2 linked regions of the Homo sapiens genome follow. The protein of the gene in region 1 interacts with the protein of each later gene in a pairwise test. Each region holds a gene or a part of one and is shown on either strand. Other genes may lie near its edges.

Region 1 (5,916 bases):
GGCTTATGTCAGCATTATAACTTTCAAAAATTGCTTCATTCAAAAATCACATACTGAGTACCTACTAGGGGCCCAGCATTTTGAACAAAAGATGCAGAAATCCAGCCTGGTGGGCCTTACATTTTAATCACACTCTAATACCCCTTCCACAAATGTATACTCAAGAAAACACACACACACACACACACACACACACACGGAAAGAAACATGCACAAAGCCTTTTTTTTTTGAGACGGAGTCTTGCTCTGTCGTCCAGGCTGGAGTACAATGGCGCCATCTCGGCTCACTGCAACCTCTGCCTCCCTGGTTCGAGCAATTCTCCTGCCTCAGCCTCCCAAGTAGCTGGGATTACAGGCACATGCCACCACACCCAGCTAATCTCTGTATTTTTAGTAGAGACGGGGTTTCACCATGTTGGCCAGGATGGTCTCAAACTCCTGACCTCAGGTGATCCGCCCACCTCGGCTTCCCAAAGTGCTGGGATTACAGGCGTGAGCCAGCGCGCATGGCCAGCAGAGCCTTCTCTATGTAGCTATTCATCAGCATTACTTACAGCAACCCAAAAAATGGAAATAAAAGAATAAATCATTAGGATAGAAAATAGTTTTCAAATAAGACTTAATGAATGGAAAAATGCTTAAGTTAAATGTAGAGTGGAAATGGTAGTAAATACAATTGTGCATATAATTCTTTTTTTAATGTTAACAACAAAAAAACGATAAAATTACTTAGTGTTACCTACAGGCTGTGAGATTATGGGTGACTGGTTTCTGTACCTTTCAGTAATTTCCAAATTCCCTACAAAGCAATCTATTTCATAATAACTATTACTTTTTAAAAACTTATCTCTGAATAAGGTGAAGAAACTGGGCATGATTCTTTGTTTTTATACTGTGGATGGCTAATCACTTAAGAGCAATGCATTCAAAAGTAAGTCCAAAGCATTACAAGTTGTTTCCACAACAGTCAATGGTTAAGACCAAACTTGTAAATTTTTTTTTTAAAAAAACACACTCAAAATGCTGAATGAAATACAAATAGACAAGAAATCGATTTAACATAGAGATTTAACCAAAGACTGTAATAAGGGGACCACCTGGAAGGTGGACTCTATTGAACAAAAGTTAACAAGAGAAGCCAGCTGAAGGAGGAGATAGCTTTCAGACAGCCACGGAAGGGAATGCTGCCTCACATAGGAAGTCCAAAACAGGTCTAAGCCATGCCATTTTCTGACTACCACTGCTTATTCCTTAGAAAGAGAACCAACCACCACAGCAGTGTTCAGCAAAGCTCTCCTACATTCCAAATCTCCTGGTGAAAATACCACACTCAGGACTGGGAGGGCAGCCCAAGCAACTGCAACGCACCCTCTTCCCAGGATCAACAGCACCGCCCAGGCACCCTACACACACCCTAGCTACATCAGGAAGCCACCCTCCACCAAGATCGTTCCTCACAGTCTTCAAGTAGATGGGGTCACCTCCAGCAGGTCATCCATAAGGAATCCTGCCTTTCCTGTCCGGGAATGGTCTGTGCAAGGGTTTGTACTTCCTTCACTGCTCTGTGTTTCCAGCTGGATCCTGGAGCACAGGGGCTGTGCCCTCCACTTCTTAGTTCCTAGTCTATGAGCCTGGCAGCGGCTGAAGCCAATATACAAACCAGTGAAAGGATGAAGTCTCTTTCCATGATGTCAGGTCTAGAATGGAAATATTATTAATTTCATGTCTCCAGGTTGAATATTTGTATTGGGGGTAGAGGGGAAGCAGGAAAGGACTTCCAAAGAAGAGAAGGTTAGGGATGGGCAGTGCAAACAGCTTCACTATTTATTTTAAAGTTACCAGAAGCACTTATATTCTCCACAACCTCTGCAGTACACCCAGATGGCCACATTCATATGGGGAAGCCATCAGGCACAGAAAGGAAGCATGTCATAGAGTCTGAAGCCAAACCAACCTAAACTCAAAGCCTTAGTTTCCTCATCTGTAAAATGGGGATAACTATGCCTAACTCACAACGTGATTGGATCGTGTATATAAAATTCAACATCTGGCACACAAAAAGCACTCAGGAGATGGAAACCATTTATCTGCTGTGTCTTATGACAGATGAATCCACGAGTATCAGATGGGCTCTCTTTGTTGACTAAAGCCAAGAGACCCTTGACAATGATCTCTTCTCCTCTGGACACACAGGGCTGGAACTCGCAGGAGCAGGACTGAGACGGGAGGTCCTAGGTTAGAGTAAGGTGTTTGCACTAGCTGTATACTGCCTAAAAGAGACTCATTCTGTCACCCCAACCCTGGTTCCACCCAGCTATGGGAAATCTCTGCAGAGGCTTCAGGTGTGGATATGTCTATGGGCCAAGAGCGGGGGTGGGAGGCAGGGAAAGTGATGACTGTGACCTTGAGCAAGGCACTTCTCTGCCTTAGTTTCCTCTTTGGTAAGCAGAGTGGACCTGTTCCATGATCCCTGAAGTCCTCCCTGTGCTTCTATTGTACCATCCCCTCTAGGGCACTGGTTATAATTCTCACAGGTCCAAGGGACACCTTCAAATGTGTTCCAATTCCTCCCAGCCACTGAGTAGCCCTTTGGCCCTGCTCCCACGAGAAAGGAGGATTCGGAGCAGCGTTCACGGCTTTCTGGTTTTTGTTCTGTGTGCAGCAGCTCTCCACCCCTAGCTGCTCCTTCCACCTTTCCTTTTCCGCCTCAAAGTGGTCAAGTGCCTGTGCAGGGGCAATCGCTGGCCTGCAGTGTCAGCTCAGAGACGGTTTCCAGACCATCCTGTGTACAGGCTCAGGGTGGACAAATAAACATTTTGGAGAAGCAATAGGAATTAAATCATTTCTTCCACAACAAAACCCTTATGCTTCTTCATAAATCATGCCTCTTCATTCCATACTGATGAACAGTCACTAAATTGCATCTGTTATAAAAACAGCCCTTACTCCTTTCATGCCCAGACACTTAAGAATCAAAATATTTTCACACTCCATTGTACTAATAATGCCTTGCAGAAGTAATACCAATAGCTATTTCCCTGGAAAGATCCGTGGCCAGGGCGCTTTCCAAGAGGTTTTCTTTGAATGTTCTTTGTGTCCTGCTGTACGGGGGGACACGGCCGGCCTGCCCGCATCTGGGGGACGCTGGGCTTGTCCCGGTAATGCAATACTCTTTTAAAGCACACCTCGAATCCACCTCTTCGCCCCGACAATAAAGTATCTCAAAACATTCGATATGCCACATCATACAGCCTTGACAAAAAAGCACGCCGGTGCCTGCATTCTGCAGGAAAAACCAGGCACATTCTGAGATGAAGCCACCAGACCCGCTTCGGGTTCCATGGACAAGAGAACAGCTTTGCAGACCCCTTAGCAAGACCGGCCAGAAGCCGCTCGCTTGTTCGTTTTAATTATTTATTTCCCCCGTGCCTTTATTTGTTGGGCCCCAGAAGAATGGCAAAGCATCTTCCAGAAAGGACGGCGAGGGAGCTGGAGAATAAAAGAGGATGGGCGGGGAAAGCCGGGGTTTTGAAAACAGCAGCGATAAAGGCAGGCGGGGTCGCGGCCGCGTTCCGAGGGTCTCGGCGGAGCTTACCTGGGGCGCACGAGGCCGGCCGGGCCAGCAGCAGCAGCCAGAGGCCAGGAAGCAGCAGCCCCGGGCGGCGGCGGCGGGCGCAGCGGGCGGAAGGCCGTCGGCCGCTCGGCCCCGGGGCCAGCGCGACCCCGGCGCGGGGCTTCCCCTCCATGGCCGCGCCTCGGCGTCGGCGCCGCGCCCCCGGCATTCCCGGCCGGCGCCCCGGCCCGGCCTCGCGGCTCAGCGGCTCTCGGGTCCGGGAGGGGCGGCCGCTGCGGCTGCGGCTGGGACGGGGCGCCGCGCACCGGCGCGGAGGGAGGCCGGAGAGGCGGGGGCGGGCCGGGCCGGAACCGAGGACAGGGGCGCCAGCCGCACGCCCGCCTTGCCGCTCCGCCCCCTTCGGAGCCTCGGAGCCGCTGCCCGGCAACGCGCGGGCCCGGGCGCGGGACGGCGAGCACCCCCTCCCGGCCGGCCGGACGCCTGCCTGCCTGCCTGCCTGCCTGCCTGCGGGGCGGCCGGGGCAGCGTGCGCGGGGCTCGGCGCGGCAGAGGCGGCAAGGGCGGCGAGGCGGCGCGGCCCAGCCCTCCCCCAGGACCCGCCTTCCGGAGGGAGCGCGAGGGGCTCGGGGGGCCTGGGCCGGGCGGTGCCGCCCCGACCCGCACCCAACCCCGGGTCCCGCCGCGCGTTCCCCGGGGCGCCCGGATCAGGGTAGGCCGGCAAGCCGGGGGAGGGGTCCTCTCGCCTCCCTCGCTCCTCCTCTCCCGCCGACTCCTTGCGGGCAGCAGGTGTGTGGGGCGCCGCGCTCTCAGGACAGCCTCGGGGCCGCGGAGGGGACAAAGCCAGACAAAGTCGGGCTCCTGCGCTAGAGCTCAGCGTGCAAGGCAGGGGCGAGCAGAGCGCACGCAGCTCTCCCCCGCCTTCCTGCCTTAAGAAGGTGCGGCCACCTCTGCGGGTCTTCGGGAAGCGACCCTGCGCTCAGGGCCTGGGAGGCCCGCGGGACCCTGCACTTAGCAGGCCTTGAGCAGGCGGCTGCTGAAGCGAATGGGCGTGGAGCTGGGGAGACCCGCAAGGCCAGGCCGTTTTAGGGAAAGTGGCGCTCCTGAGAGGTGGAGAGAATGCCCAGAGAGCGTTTGAGGGTTGGAGTCCGCGGGGGGAATGAGGAACGGGAAGAAGGGAGTTGACATCTGTCAAGTACCTACTGTGTGCCAGGCACGTCACTCTGAAGACGCCCCGTGGCTTCAGGGTCTAGGGAGGAGGAATTGGAAGTTTTGAATCGTTGCATCCCACTGGCATTGTTGCATCAAGCAGATATTAACGGTGTGTGTGGGGGACACTATCTCGTGCAGAAAAACTATGGCAGACAGCGGAAAAGGTGAATCATTACACTGGCAGAGGGATCCTCGCGGCTATTCAGTCGGGTTCCCCTGCCAGGCCCAGCCCTTGAAGGGGCTGCCCAGCCTTGCAGCTCCAACTCTTCTGGACTCCTTGCCCTTGGCGAATAGTTCTTCCTAAGAATAGGACAGGGGCACTCTTCTGTAGGTACACACCTGGTCCTTACAGGTGGGTACTTGAAACCTGGTAGTTTCAAGGAAAATGAGAATAAAGGTTAAAAAAAGCTTTTGTTGATGTTCCTGGTGTTTTTACACGTTATTGTAACCCCCCATCATACAGCCCCTATGTTTATTACAGTAACTGCTCCTGTCTCCCAAAGAGGGTTCTGCGTGCACACCCAGGTAAGTACCTAAGAGAAACTGCCCAGATATGTCTGGTCCCAGGACACCATGGCCATAGATCTGGGACCTCTTATTCACACACTTATCTTTATTCTCTGAACTCTCTATAACAGCACATTTGACCACAAACCACTGCCTTCGTGCAACTCTTGAATGGTCTTGTCCTGTTGTGTTGTTTTATCTTTTATGAATTTATGCTTTGCACACACAGCCCCCACCCCACCTCCAATAAATTAATATGAAATTCAAATATGGTGCTATCCTGCTTAGGATTTCTCATAGCCCCAGTAAGCCCTCAGTAGACAATCGTTGGTTTGAGCCAGAGCATGCATTCCGCCCGTGAAGAGGTTCCATCTTCAGATTTGGCCTCAGCCTCCTGCAAGCTGCCATCTACACTAGACCCGTTGGTGTCAGAGAAAAAAGCCTCCCTCGGCCATGCGCGGTGGCTCACGCCTATAATCCCAGCACTTTGGGAGGCCAAGGCAGGCAGATCACCTGAGGTCAGGAGTTCAAGACCAGCCTGGCCAACATGGCAAACCCCGTCTCTAATAAAAACACAGAAAAATTTACCCAGGCATGGTGGCACGTGCTTGTAATCCCAGCTACTCA
Region 2 (3,500 bases), on another chromosome or scaffold:
ACTGGGTATATACCCAAAGGATTATAAATCATGCTGCTATAAAGACACATGCACACGTATATTTATTGTGGCACTGTTCACAATAGCAAAGACTTGGAACCAACCCAAATGTCCATCAATGATAGATTGGTTTAAGAAGATGTGGCACATATACACCATGGAATACTATGCAGCCATAAAAAAGGAAGAGTTCATGTCCTTTATAGGGACATGGATGAAGCTGGAAACCATCCTTCTCAGCAAACTATTCCAAGGACAAAAAAACAAACACCGCATGTTCTCACTCATAGATGGGAATTGAACAATGAGAACACTTGGACACAGGAAGGGGAACATCACACACCGGGGCCTGTCGAGGGGTGGGGAGAAGGGGGAGGGATAGCATTAGGAGATATACCTAATGTAAATGACGAGTTAATAGGTGCAGCACACCAACATGGCACATGTATACATGTAACAAACCTGCATGTTGTACACATGTACCCTAGAACTTAAAGTATAATTTAAAAATAAATAAGTAAAAAATAAAATGCCAGAGTTGGCACCTTAAGATCCTCTTTCACAGCAAAGGAGCAGGACTAAAACCAGGCATCTTGACCAATATCCCACAGGTGCTCTGGTAAAATCTCCAAGACCAGGACCCAGGTCTTCCAGTACCTAATTCAATGTTCTTTCCATGCCCACACAAAGGCAAGCAGCAGAAGGAGGAGCAAGCATAAGGCCTTCCCAGTCACCACAGCCATGCTGTCAAACCTCTCTGTGGATATGCTGTGTTAACTTCTGAGCCTTGGGGATACCCATATTTACAATATGATAAATACATTAAGTCACATTGTTTAATATTTGGATATGGGCCCAGACGCACAAATGAACAAGAACCTCATGTCCTGGGACTTCATGGAGCACAAATTATAGTGGGCAGAGAGGCAAACTTGGAATCACCGTGACGCTGGGCATCGAGACTACTGGGTGCAACAATGGGACACACTGAAAGATGACTAGCATGTCATAGGAACTTGAAAGCATTCGTGCTCCTTCCTTTTCACAAACTGAGAAATCTTAAATTTTTTTTAACGTGTCCCAGAAGCATCTTGACAACAGAAGCACTCTCATTACTGTAAAGCCCACAATGAATAGCAGACAGCATGACTTCACCCTAGACAGGTCATGCCAACTTCACATCCCTTTCCAAATAGTATGCCAGTACTATACCAAATAGTATACCACTTTAGGAAGAGTGGTACCAGGTGGTAAGCTCCTATATTCCAATGACCAGAGTAAAATATCACCAGAACTTTATGTAAAATACATCTTGTAAAAGTATGATTACTTTATTTTTCAGAGTTAAGGCAATAATCTGTGGTTGGTTAATGTTCTAAGATGTTACAAGAACTTTAAGAGACAGGGTCTCACACTGTCACCCAGGCTGGAGTGCAGTAGCACAATCATAGCTCACTACAGCTGCAAACTCCTGGGCCTGTGATCCTCCTGCCTTAGCTTCTTAGTAGCTGGGATGATAGGTGTGAGTAACCACAACCAGCTATTATGAGAAATATATAAAATACTATTTGTGATCATGTTATTTATAAGAAATATATATATTGTCTCAATCCTTGCTTGGTCTCTTGGCTCCTAAACCCCTTGAAGTATCTTTGGTTTGCCAATGAAATGATTGGTGGCTGGGAGCCTCTAGGTAGCTTCAGGACGGGGGGCTGCTTACCAGAAAGACCAAGGCAAGATTGGAGGGTTTGGACTCCCAGCCTCAACCCCCAACCTCCAGAAAGGGGAGAGAGGCTGAAGGTTGAGTTAATCGCCAATTGCCAATGGTAATGCTGACATAATGAAGCCTCCGTAAAACCCCAAAGGGTCGGGGTCCAGATGAGCTTCTGGGTAGCTGATGACGTGGAGAGAGCATGAAAGCTCCATACCCCTTCCCACATGCCTTGCCCTGTGCATCTCTTCCATCTGGCTGTTCATCTGTATTCTTTGAAATATCCTTTACAAGCCAGAGGCAATGGCTCACACCTGTAATCTCAGCACTTTGGGAGGCTGAGGTGGGTGGATGACTTGAGGTCAGGAGTTTGAGACCAGCCTGGCCAACAGAGTGAAACCCCATCTCTACTAAAAATACAAAAATTAGCTGGGCATGGTGGTGCACACTTGTAATCCCAGCTACTTGGGAGGCTGAGGCATGAGAATCGCTTGAACTCAGGAGGTGGAGGTTGCAGTGAGTTGAGACTGTGCCACCGCACTCCAGCCTGGGTGACACAGTGAGACTCCATCTCTAAATAAAAAAATAAATAAATGAAATATCCTTTACAATAAATTAGTATTGTAACCAATATGTAGTTTTAATAAAGTAATAAAATTAAAAATGGGTAAACATAAGTAGAGTGTTTCTCTGTGTTCTGGGAGCTGCTCTAGCAAATAAATCAAAACCAAGGAAAGGGTCACGGGAACCCCACTTTATAGCCAGTCAGAAGTATAGGGACTTGCGATTGGTATCTGGAGTGGGGGCAGTCTTGTGGGCTGAGCCCTCCACCTGTGGGATCTGACTCCAATTCCAGGTAGACAGTGTCAGAATTGAATTATAGGACATCCAGCTGGTGTCCACTGGACAACCTGGTGTAAAAGTATTGAGTGGTATGTGACAACAGCAAAAACACTTTGGTTTTGTCGTATATCCCTAATACTATGCTTTTAGGTTATCAGATGATGTTATTACAGATATGACTGGAGATACAGGTCTTGGTCTTAAGAGTAATATTTCAACTACCCATTATTTACTATTCCTTTCCCATGGAAACTCAGTGAAAATGACAGAAGATTATAGGATTTTTAAAGTTTTTGACATGCAAGCATAATGCAGACCTCTTTGATGGTTGACAGATTCTTTTATTAACAGTCAAAAACTTCACACAATTGGAAAATAAATGTTTCTTCAATGAATAATCAAACAAAAATTATCCAGGACCTTATAGGGTTTTCAGTATGTACCAGGCTTGATGCACATCTTAGAAGACAGGACATTATCTTGCTGGGATCATTAGGGTATGACTGAAAGTGAGAAACAGTAATTTGTAAAACATTTACCTAATAATAGCTTTCCCAAACAGTACTTCCCCTGGAATTAAAACAGGAAATACAATTTATGTTTATACGTGGTTTTAGATATGACTCAATATACATAGATTTTAACTTTATGGTTTGGTATTACTTTTTTAAAGGCGCTCAATAGAAATTCAAATCTCACTTTAAGACCATGAATTTCAAGTTGCAATGAAGTGTACAATAAAGTTGTGATTTCTCAACATCAAAGTTTAATTATTACAAAATAGTTCAAGCAACAGATAGAATTTCAAAAACAGTATTTGCTTTGCTTCCTTGTTTTGCTCCAACACTAATCATGCTGAGGTTTTTGAAGCACAGCTATGACTAGGGCAGGCACTGCTGATTCAGTCACAAAAACCCTTCTTGGATGAACAATACTTGTTCTTTTC

What was found.
Region 2: the proteins of KIAA1549 (region 1) and SOD2 interact in a two-hybrid assay, tested with the Homo sapiens proteins (one large-scale study listed by IntAct).

Annotation. Positions count from the first base shown.
Region 1 is NC_000007.14:138,977,488-138,983,403, forward strand, and holds the start of KIAA1549 (UPF0606 protein KIAA1549), read right to left. Parts: upstream 3,903-5,916; 5' UTR 3,783-3,902; coding exon 3,596-3,782; intron 1-3,595. UniProt on the Homo sapiens protein: May play a role in photoreceptor function.
Region 2 is NC_000006.12:159,676,242-159,679,741, forward strand, and holds part of SOD2 (superoxide dismutase [Mn], mitochondrial isoform A precursor), read right to left. Parts: 3' UTR 1-3,500. UniProt on the Homo sapiens protein: Destroys superoxide anion radicals which are normally produced within the cells and which are toxic to biological systems.